Homo sapiens: one gene and its partner. The protein of the gene in region 1 interacts with the protein of each later gene in a pairwise test. Each region holds a gene or a part of one and is shown on either strand. Other genes may lie near its edges.

The links.
Region 2: the proteins of CRELD1 (region 1) and ADRA1A interact in binary tests that used the Homo sapiens proteins (3 or more experiments, as listed by UniProt).

The regions. Positions count from the first base shown.
Region 1 is NC_000003.12:9,936,639-9,943,923, reverse strand, and holds part of CRELD1 (protein disulfide isomerase CRELD1 isoform 2 precursor), read right to left. Parts: intron 6,363-7,285; coding exon 6,252-6,362; intron 5,910-6,251; coding exon 5,818-5,909; intron 3,075-5,817; coding exon 2,898-3,074; intron 2,814-2,897; coding exon 2,718-2,813; intron 1,112-2,717; coding exon 1,028-1,111; exon of another isoform or gene 1,027-1,027; intron 848-1,026; coding exon 752-847; intron 544-751; coding exon 409-543; intron 250-408; coding exon of another isoform or gene 173-249; exon of another isoform or gene 35-172; coding exon of another isoform or gene 1-34. UniProt on the Homo sapiens protein: Protein disulfide isomerase. Promotes the localization of acetylcholine receptors (AChRs) to the plasma membrane.
Region 2 is NC_000008.11:26,768,283-26,773,537, reverse strand, and holds the end of ADRA1A (alpha-1A adrenergic receptor), read left to right. Parts: intron 1-2,871; coding exon 2,872-3,389; 3' UTR 3,390-4,729; downstream 4,730-5,255. UniProt on the Homo sapiens protein: This alpha-adrenergic receptor mediates its action by association with G proteins that activate a phosphatidylinositol-calcium second messenger system. Its effect is mediated by G(q) and G(11) proteins.

The DNA of each region.
Region 1 (7,285 bases):
TCAGTTAAGATGGGGAATGCACCTAGAACAGCATCTGACACAGTAATTGCTGGGGAAATGGTCCCTGCCATCATCGTTGTGATTACCCTGCATCTCACCACACCCCCGGCCTAGGACAGCTCTCAGCAGGCCAGGGCAAACACTGGTCCCATTGGATAGATGAGGAAACAGGTTAAGGAGGCAGACTGATTTGATGCCAGGTCTGATTCCCTTTGTACCCTGGAAGGTATAAGGCTGCTGAGAGCCAACCTGGAGATCAGATGTAGAGCCCGGTCTCAGTGCAGCCTCCAGGGGGCTGGGTGGCAGTAGGGATGGGGCAGGGCCTGGAGCTGCCACTGCTACCTGGGGAAGGGGCTTGCCTGCCTTCTCTTTGAATGAGGACCTCCCCTCTCCCGCCCCAGGGCTCACCTGGGATCTGCTCCTTCACACAGATGCCTTCCATCTGCTTGTAGCCCTCGGCACAGATGCAGCGATAACCGCCCTCGGTGTTTTCACACTGCTTGTTCTCTCCCGGACACACCTCTGTCTCACACTCATCCACATCTTGAGGGGAGGGAGGGGTCAGAGTCCTGCTAGGGCCCCCCACCCAGCACCCTGACTCCATCTTGTCCATCTCTCAACACTCCCCTCTGCCCTTGCCCAGGCAACATTCCACCCTTCCTTCCCCCACCTGCCCATATTCCAGCCTCTTCACCATTCATGCTGGGTGAGGCACTCCCAGGTGCCTGTGTCCCATCAGCAGGAGACTCACCGAGACACTTGGAGCCCACCTGCTGATAGCCAGGGCTACACTTCTTACAGCGACCTGGCCCTGCCCCCATGCAGCCTAGGCAGGCCTTGGCACAGTCTGGAGAGAGGAGAGAAAGATGAGGGTGAGATGTGCACCTAGGCCCAGGGGAGCCACGCTCCAGAAGCGGAGGCCTGGGGGTGCTCTGAAGCCTGAGAAGGGGAAGGTTTGGAGGGACAGGTGTGGAGCAGCTCTTCCTCCACTCCTCACGTCCCCTCCTCTGCAGAAGTAGACACTGACCTCGGCACTCATAGGAGCCCTCAGTGTTCACGCAGAATTGGTCAGCTCCACAGTTGGCTCCCTCTGTGCCACACTCATCAATGTCTGCAGAGAGGTGAGCAGGGTGAGAATTTCAATCCCTATTTAGTAGGGAAGCTGAAGCCAGAGCCGTTGGGGAATGGTCTTGCCTGGGATTAAATGGTATGGCAGAGACTGCAAGCTGTCTACCAACACAGAAGCAGACTAGCTGGACTTCAGGCTGCCCAGCCAGAGACCACATTTGCCAACCTGTCTTGAAGCTAAGTGTGTCCCTGTGATTGAGTTCTGGCCAACAGGATGTAAACAGGAGTGATGAGCTCCACCGTTAGCTTGGTCTTAAAACAATGCTTGGACTCCTCAATGCACTTTCTTTCCCTTCTCCCTTCCTGAGTGCTGGCATGTGGGACACAGAGATGCCCAGGACTCAGCTTCAACCATGCAGACAACGCCCAAGGGGATGATTGTGCAGTAAGTTACAGGAATAATCTGGGTACTGGAATGATTATGACTAGCAGAGCTCCCCTGCCAGCCTGGACTACTCACTTTGGGACTGTAATATGATAAAAAAAAATAAACCTCTACCCTCTAGATTCTTTTTTTTTTTTTTGAGATGGAGTTTCGCTCTTGTCACCCAGGCTAGAGTGCAATGGTGTGATCTTGGCTCACTGCAACCTCTGCCTCCTGGATTCAAGCGACTCTCCTGCCTCTGCCTCCCGAGTAGCTGGGATTACAGGCACCTGCCACCATGCCTGGCTAAATTTTTGTATTTTTAGTACAGACAGGGTTTTGCCATGTTGGCCAGGCTGGTCTCGAACTCCTGACCTCAGGTGATCCACCCCACTTCAGCCTCTCAAAGTGCTGGGATTAGAGGCGTGAGTGAGCTACCACACCCAGCCAACCTCTATACTCTTTAAGCCACAGTCTTTTGGGGATTTTTGTTACAGCAGCTTAGCCTTTACTTTAGTCTATATAAGTGGCTAGGCTGGGACCAAACCAAGTCTTGAACCCAGGTTTCCTGACCCCAAGTTCAGTGTCCTCATTCTCCTAGCCAACCCTTCCTCATTTTTTTTTTTTTTTTTTTTTTTTTTTGAGATGGAGTCTCCCTCTGTTGCCCAGACTGGAGTGCAGTGGTGCGATCTCGGCTCACTGCAAGCTCCGCCTCCCAGGTTCATGCCCTTCTCCTGCCTCAGCCTCCTGAGTAGCTGGGACTACAGGCACCCGCCACCACGCCCAGCTAATTTTTTGTATTTTTAGTTGAGACAGGGTTTCACCATGTTAGCCAGGATGGTCTCGATCTCCTGATCTCATGATCTGCCCGCCTTGGCCTCCCAAAGTGCTGGGATTACAGGCGTGAGCCACCGCGCCCAGCCCCTTCCTCAATTTTTAGGACTTGGCCAAAGTAACGCCTCCTCCAAGAAGCCTTTCCTGATTCCCCATCACCACTTCCACTGAACTAGATCAGAGGCATCTCTCACTGTACACAGGGACTATACTACACAGTACCTGTGTACTGGACTGTAAGTATCTGGTTACTTTTCTGCCTTCCCAGCCAGGTTGAGATCTCCATGAAGGTGGAGACTAGGCTAGTCTAGCCCAGGCTTGTGTTGAGAGAATAAAGGACCAAGCCCAGGCCCCTGACCATCTTCCCAGACCTAGCTAGGGCCCCACTTACCTACACACTTGAGGTGATGCAGGGCCCAGCCCTTCTTGCATTGCAAACAGTTTGATTCCTCAGGTCCTGAGCATCGGGCACAGGGGCCAAAACAAGCTGGGTGGAATGGGGGCAGCATGAGGATGGGCAGGCAGGTGCCCCATCTGCCCCTGCCCAGTGCCACACCTTTTGGCTACCTACCCGAACATACCAGATGGCTGGCGTTGCGTTCTGCCTCAAAGTAGCCAAGGCCACACTGGCCACAGGCCTCACCCCCGTAGCCGGCTTGGCAGTCACAGTGCCCGCTGCCCCCTCGTGTCCCTTCTCCTTCACACTGCCCGTAGCCACCGCAGGGCCTCTCTGTTCCCCCAGGACAGGCTGTGGGAAGACACCAAACCAGGTGAGGTCATCTATACAACCTTGATATACAAGATAATATTTTCTCCCTCTCCCTCTCCCTCTCCCTTGCCTTCCCTCCCTCCCCCCCTCCCCTCCCCCTCCCCCTTTCCCTCTCCCTCTCCCCATGGCCTCCCTCTCCCTCTCCCCATGGTCTCCCTCTCCCTCTCTTTACACGGTCTCCCTCTGATGCCAAGCTGAAGCTGGACTGTACTGCTGCCATCTCGGCTCACTGCAACCTCCCTGCCTGATTCTCCTGCCTCAACCTGCCGAGTGCCTGCGATTGCAGGCGCGCGCCACCACGCCTGACTGGTTTTCGTATTTTTTTGGTGGAGACGGGGTTTCGCTGTGTTGGCCGGGCCGGTCTCCAGCTCCTAAACGCGAGTGATCCGCCAGCCTCGGCCTCCCGAGGTGCCGGGATTGCAGACGGAGTCTCGTTCACTCAGTGCTCAATGGTGCCCAGGCTGGAGTGCAGTGGCGTGATCTCGGCTCGCTACAACCTCCACCTCCCAGCCGCCTGCCTTGGCCTCCCAAAGTGCCGAGATTGCAGCCTCTGCCCGGCCACCACCCCGTCTGGGAAGTGAGGAGCGTCTCTGCCTGGCGGCCCATCGTCTGGGATATGAGGAGCCTCTCTGCCAGGCTGCCCAGTCTGGAAAGTGAGGAGCGTCTCTGCCCGGCCGCCATCCCATCTAGGAAGTGAGGAGCGTCTCTGCCCGGCCGCGACCCCGTCTGGGAGGTGAGGAGCGTCTCTGCCCGGCCGCCCTGTCTGAGAAGTGAGGAGCCCCTCCGCCCGGCAGCCGCCCCGTCTGGGAAGTGAGAAGTGTCTCCGCCGGGCAGCCAGCCCGTCCGGGAGGGAGGTGAGGGGGTCAGCCCCCCGCCCGGCCAGCCGCCCCGTCCGGGAGGTGAGGGGCGCCTCTGCCCGGCTGCCCCTACTGGGAAGTGAGGAGCCCCTCTGCCCGGCCACCACCCCGTCTGGGAGGTGTACCCAACAGCTCATTGAGAACGGGCCAGGATGACAATGGCGGTTTTGTGGAATAGAAAAGGGGGAAAGGTGGGGAAAACACTGAGAAATCGGATGGTTGCTGTGTCTGTGTAGAAAGAAGTAGACACGGGAGACTTTTCATTTTGTTCTGTACTAAGAAAAATTCTTCTGCCTTGGGATCCTGTTGATCTATGACCTTATCCCCAACCCTGTGCTCTCTGAAACATGTGCTGTGTCCACTCAGGGTTAAATGGATTAAGGGCGGTGCAAGATGTGCTTTGTTAAACAGATGCTTGAAGGCAGCATGCTGGTTGAGAGTCATCACCACTCCTTGATCTCAAGTACCCAGGGACACAAACACTGCGGAAGGCCGCAGGGTCCTCTGCCTAGGAAAACCAGAGACCTTTGTTCACTTGTTTATCTGCTGACCTTCCCTCCACTATTGTCCTATGACCCTGCCAAATCCCCCTCTGGGAGAAACACCCAAGAATGATCAATAAAAAAGACAAAAAAACAAAAAAAACAAGATAATATTTTCTGCTCTGCATATCAGTAAACATTTTTGGAGAAGAAAATTAATTTTAATGACATAATATTTTGTCATAAAACTGACATTTACTTAACCAATTTCCTCTTGTGGAACAATTAGATTTTACAGACCTTTTATTTATTTATTTATTTATTTATTTATTTATTTATTTATTTATTTTTAGTGACAGGGTCTCGCTCTGTTTCCCAGGCAATGACATGATCATAGCTCACTGCAGCTTCGAACTCCTGGGCTCAAGCAATCCTCCCACCTCAGCCTAGGGGAACAACAGGCTGCACTACCATGCCCCACTATTTTTTTTTTAAGAGACAGGGTCTTGCTCTACTACCCAGGCTGGTCTCTCAAACTCCTGGCCTCAAGTGATCCTCCTGCCTCAGCCTCCCAAAGTGCTGGGTTTACAGGTACGAGCCACTGGACCAAATATTTTCTTTTTTTTTTTTGAGACAGAGTCTCGCTCTGTCGCCCAGGCTGGAGTGCAGTGGCATGATCTCGGCTCACTGCAAGCTCCGCCTGCCGGGTTCATGCCATTCTTCTGCCTCAGCCTCCAGAGTAGCTGGGACTAGAGGCGCCCGCCACCATGCCCGGCTAATTTTTTGTATTTTTTAGTAGAGACGGTGTTTCACCATGATAGCCACGATGGTCTCGATCTCCTGACCTCATGATCCACCCACCGCAGCCTCCCAAAGTGTTGGGATTACAGGTGTGAGCCACCGCGCCCAGCCAATATTTTCTTTTACAAAGACTGAATTTGCCATCTTTGTAGCTAGCTCTTTATCTGTAGCTTCAGGAAAGACTGCTCTAAAAGAGGCTGGTAGTAAGTTCAGCTCTTGTGCCAGGACTGTGTGTGAGGATGGATGGCGATCATGGAGGCTCCAGGTCAGCACCCGCCCCTCCCCAGGAAGGTACCATAGTCCGATCTGGCATGGGAAATGAAGGGGCTGGGAAGTCTATCATTTCTTTAGTACATGATGATAACTATACTGCATATGACTCAGTCTAGCCCCTGTGCTTTCTCCAAGCCTTTCCCCACTGATTTGCCCATCTCCCCAGCCCTGTCAGGCAGGCAAGAACTGAGGTCCAGAGAAGTTTATCTGAGTAGCCTGAGTTCACACAGCGAACTAGGGACAGAGCCAGGACTGGATCCCTGGACTCGGTGGTCCCCTCCCATCCCCAAGAGCAACTTAAAAACTCACGAAGGCAGGAGGGCCCGAAGGTGCCTGCGGGGCAGCAGAGCTTCAGGGAATCTGAGCACAGCCACTGGAAGAGGTCCGGGGCCTCCTGCTGCCTGAGGCAGGGGCAGGGTGGAGGGAGGTGGGGAGGAGGTGCTGAGATAGTGTCATAAGTGCTGTTCCCATTCCCCCATGCCTGAATCTGTGATTCAACCCAGCTTGGACATAAGACCCAAAAGGCCATCTGACCAATGCCCTTTCCCCATTTGGCAGAAGGGTAAACTGAGGCTCAAAGTGGAGCGCAAGTCCCCCGGCAAGTTCTTAGCAGACCTGGGTTTGGAAGGAGCACAACCAGGACATGGGCCCCAGCATGCACCCCCCTGCTTCTCGGCCAAATCAGGCCTTATCACCAGGCCTCACCTGTGACCCACTTCCAGGGAAGGCCCTTTGCCACTCACTTGTGAAACCACCAGCTCTCCACCAGCTCCTCACTCAGCTCCAGCAGGCGGTGGCACTCGAAGTCTGACTTGCTGCACACACCCTCCAGCACCTCTACCAGGCGGGTCTCACTGATCGGACAGGGCAGGGCTGGTGGGAAACATGCCCCACCCCACCCACCACCCTCCTCAAGTCTCTCTCCACCCTTCCTCGTGCGGTGAAAATATCAAAGGAGAGGCCATGAGGTATAATGGAAGGGGTCATGGTTCTGGGAAGCAGAGAGACCTGGGTTCAAATCTAGTGGTAGATCTAGTGGGCAAGTCACTTAACCTCTCTGAACCTCTTTGTTTTGTCATCTGTAAAATGGGGATGACAATACCTTCCCTGCAGGTTTGTTGTAACATACATCAGTTCCTGCATCTGAGCAATGGAATATAATACCCTTGCTGGGTAGATATGGCTAAAAATACATCCTATAACAAGTGTTGGCAGGGATGTGGAGAAATTAGAATCCTCCCACACTGCAGGTGGGAATACAAAATGGCATCACCACTGTGGAAAAGCAGTTCCTCAATAAGTAAAACATGGAATTGCCATAGGACCTGCCAATTCCACTACTGGATATAGACCCAAAAGAATGGAAAACAGGTGTTCAAACGAAAACTTGTAGACAATGTTCATAGCAGCACTATTCACAACAGCCAAAAGGTAGAAACAATGCAGATGTCCATCAACTGATGCATGGTTAAACAAAATGTGGTACAGCCAAATGAGAATATTATTCAGCCATAAAAAGGAATAAGTATTGATATATGCTACGGTATGGGTGAACCTTGAAAACATTATGCTAAGTGAAACTAGCCAGACACAAAAGGCCACATATTTTATGATTCCAATGAAATCAGCAAATCCATAATTTCTGCTTGACTAACACAAATTAGTGATTGCCAAGAGCCGAGGGAAGGGGAGAATAGGGAGTGGCTGTGTAATAGGTATAGGATTTTTTGGGGGGGTAATGAAAATGTTCTGGAACTACATAGTGGTGATGGTTACA
Region 2 (5,255 bases), on another chromosome or scaffold:
GGGTTTCAGTGTGCTCAGCTCAGACATTCTTGTAGTCATTAAGCACAGGCCCAGGCAGGTCTTTGTGAAATGGGTTTCCTTAATCACATCACTGTCACTATTAGTAGGAAATATTGGACAATATATAGGTTTCATAATGTAAGACAAATTTTTTTCTGGAACTGACCGCATTTGCACAAAACCATCAGTCATGTTGGCATTAGCCATTTTTTCCATCACAGATGAGGTTCGAAAAAGCATTTTTCCAATTCAGCTTCCCCCAGCTGCACACTTTATCACTCCCCATCAGCTATCCTCCTAAGAGATGTATTATTGCAGTATATTTGGAGATTCCACAAAGGAGCATGGGCCCTGAAATCAATCACACTGCCTAATTTCAAACCTACCAGTAACTATGTGAGTGACCTCGGTTGAGCTACTCAAACTCATTAAGCCACAGTTTCTTCATTTGTAAAATAGGGAAGAGTCACATAACTCTTCATGTTACTAACGATGATTAAATCATATGGAAAGTGTTCAGCACAGTGCCTTGCCTGTTTCAAATCAGGCATTCAAAGACTGTAAACTTTATTATAATTATAGGACAACATGAAAAGCTTTAGAGCTAAAGAATAAAACTTTCTCACTTTACATGTTTTCCAAATAAACACCCATTGTGTGTGTGTGTGTGTGTGTGTGAATTTGAGACACATGGAACTTAGCAGGGAGTGTGCTTCAGAGGTAATAAATGCTCCCATCAACAACCACACTATTGTGTCTTCTTTGGGTTCTTCAGTATTTAAGTTTACTCTTTGTTTATATTGATGAGCTTTTTGACTTAATTTCAGAGCACTGTTTGCCAGAGTGGATTTTAATAGCACCAGCAATTTGTCACGGCTCTGATAGGTCCACAGAGCAGAGAGGAAAAGAAAGACATAAAATCAAGACCTTAGGTTTGAAACAACAGCAACAAAAAAATTGTTCAGGGCCATTAGGAATCATCCATTCAACATACTCCTTTTTCAGATAAGAAAACTGGAGGCCCAAAGGCATCATAGGAGTTTCCCAAAGCCATTCTACCAACTGTACACGAAGCTGTGACTAAAAGCCCGCGGAGAAGGAAAAGGAGCTTGGGAGCCAAGAAAGAAAAGAAAGGAGGTGGAAGGAAAGTCAAGATGTTATTTTGCAATTTCTCTGAAAGGAGTGAAGAGGGACGTTTGGGATTTCATAATTCATAAAGCTCCTTTAGCAAAAGCCCTTGGAAGTCTGAGAATCAGAGAATAAAGAACATTGGATTGGGAGTCCCATACCCTTTATCCATCACTCTTATCAGTATTGTAGCTATGAGGTTTGTGACAATCTCTTTAATAAGCATTTTTAAGAGTTCAGCTTTTTATTGAACGTGTTATAAAATAGGTTTACTCAAAAAAAAAAAAAAAAAGCCCATATTATCATCAGACTCCAGATTCTTCTTTCTTTGCTTCCACCTTCTTCTTCTCGGCCTAGGCCACAGTGACAGAAGGGCAGGACCTCCCGCAGGTACACCACCAGCTGCTGAGCAGGTCTTCCCACCCCGCCCCTCCACTGCAGAGGAGGCTCCCGAAGTTGACGATGGCCAGGGCCTTGGCAGACAAGCCAGGCCAAAAGCCGTCATCATTTACCCCAGCTGCTTTAGAAACGACATTGACCTTATCCTATGTGATGATCCCCTCAGCGTTATACAGAATGAGGGCTGAGTCAGTGCAGGCGAGCTCTGAGATGGAGTCCGTGGTGTGGACAAGTGCAAGGCTGGGCTGCCCGGAGTAGTGCTAGTGCTGGATGCAGTGAGGGCCTGACCCCAACGCAGCCTCAGCTCAGAAGGGCAGAGCATCTTGGCGGCAGCTGGGAAAAGGCTAAATAAGCATTTTTTAAATTTGTAAATTGAGTAATTGGAGGAGATAATCCTTAAGGTTGTTCCATTTTAAGACTTCACAGTTTTGTTCTTCTGCTGCGAAATGCCCTGTGGCAGTCTCTGCGCAGGATGTGACGGGTCCTGAGGCCTGGTTCCTGCCGTGCACATCAACGGGTAGGGTTTGGGTAGGTAGAGAAGGTGGAAAAGGGCATCAAGGACACAGTGGCCCAACTTGAGAGGACAAAAAAAATGATCAATGACCTGGAGAAAAAGTGTAGTGAGTCTGGCTAGAGAAAAAATAGCAACTAGTCATATTAGAAAGCTGGTTAGACCAGAGGCTGTGGAGGACTCCGAATGTGAAGCAAAGACACACATTTGGGAGACATCGAGGGATATTGACAAAGGGAGCTAACGGTGACATCAAAAGACATCATCTAGGAAAAGTGATTGAGAATCACTGGCCCAACTTTGGCAAGGCCAATATTGTGTAAAGTTGAGATTCTCATCAAAATCCATAATTCTAACATTTGGGAGGGGAGGAATTCATAAACACTGAGGCTGTGTCTGTTGCATAACACTGCATCAGAGAATAAAGGGCATGTTCAGATAACCGAATTTTAATATGGATTACTTGCATGGATTCCAACTTACTTTTCAATTTAGGCAAAACAATTTACATATGTGGACTCAGTCTGAGTTTCACATTTTCATTTGGTAAAACTTCACAGCAGCTGTTGGTCACTGAGAGCCAGTGCAACCCTACCCACTGGGCCTGCTCCTGTAATTAATGACACACGCGGACCAAGTAGGAATGGTCTTTGAAGATATTGCAAAAGGGTGACAGTCATAGGAGCTAGTCAGTCAAATGTGAGAAACTCATATGTGTTTGGGATCATTTTAACCGTTTAAAAATACAGAAAGATGTCTGTTTGATTGTTTTCCTAGCCAATTGGCTTGCTGGCTTTCAAATAATATGTATAAATCTGTGTGTTTTCTTCCAGGGTCTTTCTTCCCTGATTTCAAGCCCTCTGAAACAGTTTTTAAAATAGTATTTTGGCTCGGATATCTAAACAGCTGCATCAACCCCATCATATACCCATGCTCCAGCCAAGAGTTCAAAAAGGCCTTTCAGAATGTCTTGAGAATCCAGTGTCTCTGCAGAAAGCAGTCTTCCAAACATGCCCTGGGCTACACCCTGCACCCGCCCAGCCAGGCCGTGGAAGGGCAACACAAGGACATGGTGCGCATCCCCGTGGGATCAAGAGAGACCTTCTACAGGATCTCCAAGACGGATGGCGTTTGTGAATGGAAATTTTTCTCTTCCATGCCCCGTGGATCTGCCAGGATTACAGTGTCCAAAGACCAATCCTCCTGTACCACAGCCCGGGTGAGAAGTAAAAGCTTTTTGCAGGTCTGCTGCTGTGTAGGGCCCTCAACCCCCAGCCTTGACAAGAACCATCAAGTTCCAACCATTAAGGTCCACACCATCTCCCTCAGTGAGAACGGGGAGGAAGTCTAGGACAGGAAAGATGCAGAGGAAAGGGGAATAATCTTAGGTACCCACCCCACTTCCTTCTCGGAAGGCCAGCTCTTCTTGGAGGACAAGACAGGACCAATCAAAGAGGGGACCTGCTGGGAATGGGGTGGGTGGTAGACCCAACTCATCAGGCAGCGGGTAGGGCACAGGGAAGAGGGAGGGTGTCTCACAACCAACCAGTTCAGAATGATACGGAACAGCATTTCCCTGCAGCTAATGCTTTCTTGGTCACTCTGTGCCCACTTCAACGAAAACCACCATGGGAAACAGAATTTCATGCACAATCCAAAAGACTATAAATATAGGATTATGATTTCATCATGAATATTTTGAGCACACACTCTAAGTTTGGAGCTATTTCTTGATGGAAGTGAGGGGATTTTATTTTCAGGCTCAACCTACTGACAGCCACATTTGACATTTATGGGGAGAGGGCCTAGAGAGGAAGAGCATTAAGATGGTGGCCGAGATCCAGACACATTATTTTTAGAGCAAGTCCTGAAACTCCACCCTTTCTGATACATCCAATTTCTCAGCTTGAGGGAAACTTGGCAGTGAGGTTTACCTTTGACTGCACTTTGAATGGATGCTGCTCCTCATTTCCCAAAGATGAGAGTGAGGGGCACTCATGATGTCTTGGAATGTAGTGTTCTCTATCCTTGGGTCAGGAGAGGGTTGAAAGAACCAACCAGGGTGGTATGGCTTTTCCCAAGAGAAAACAATAGACCTGAGCATCATTCTTTCAATTTAACTACTAGAGAGAAAATCCATTAAACAGTTCCAAGATCAGATGATGATAGGCTTTCTCTCTAATATCTTTAAAGAGCAAGAGGTTGGTGTGGCTGTTAATTTCTTGCAAAGATAGAGGCTGTTCACTTACTGCACAGCCATTTCAACATGGCTTACAAAAGCCTTTCTTGACAAATCACTTACCTGTTCCAGAACTCTGTTATGAAAATCCAGAGCTTATAATATTTTGAAAGGCAAAAGATTGTCTCCCATTACTTCTTATCTGCTTCACTATTGCATAATGAATGAGCTTCACCTGTGGCATGTTGGAATGAGCCTTATGATCCAAGTACATTATTCCCGAACTTTGAAAAATACTAATGCTTAGCTTCAGACAATACTGATGGATCACCAAAGAACTGTCTAACGCAGGAGTTTGCAAACATTTTTTGATAGAAGGCCATTTGTTCTGGTAAAAGATCCAGTAGTCAACTCAACTTCATCTATTCCTACTTTTCTGCAAGAGCTTGGGGAACATGCTATATTTTGCTTTATGTATACCAAATTTTGGTAAACCATAATAACTCAGTACAGAACTTGTGTATCTCTTTTCTGAAATGCCTGGAACCAGAAGTGTTTCAGATTACAGATTTTTTCAAATTTTGAAATACTTGCATATACATAATCAAATATCTCTGGGATGGGACCCAAGTCTAAACACAAAATTCATTTATGTTTCATATACACCTCATATGCATAGCCTGAGGGTAATTTTATACAATATTTTTAATTGACTGTTTTTGACTGCAACCCATAGACATGAGGTCAGGTGTGGAATTCCCCACCTGTGGCGTCATGTCGGTGCTCAAACAATCTCGGATCTTAGAGCATTTCGGATTTCAGATTTTCGGATTAGGGCTGCTCAAGCTATAGATTACTAAGGATGAAGATGGTAACTATAAGTAAAAATTAAAATATGGCTGTCTTTTCACAATAAGGATTTAAAATAGAATTTAAGTTTTTGGAATAATTCTCGACAACAATCAGTGGTCTAAAACTAAAGACCATTTGCCTGGCCTCTTTCCTCTATTAGGGTAATTTCCTCTAACAAATTCAAAG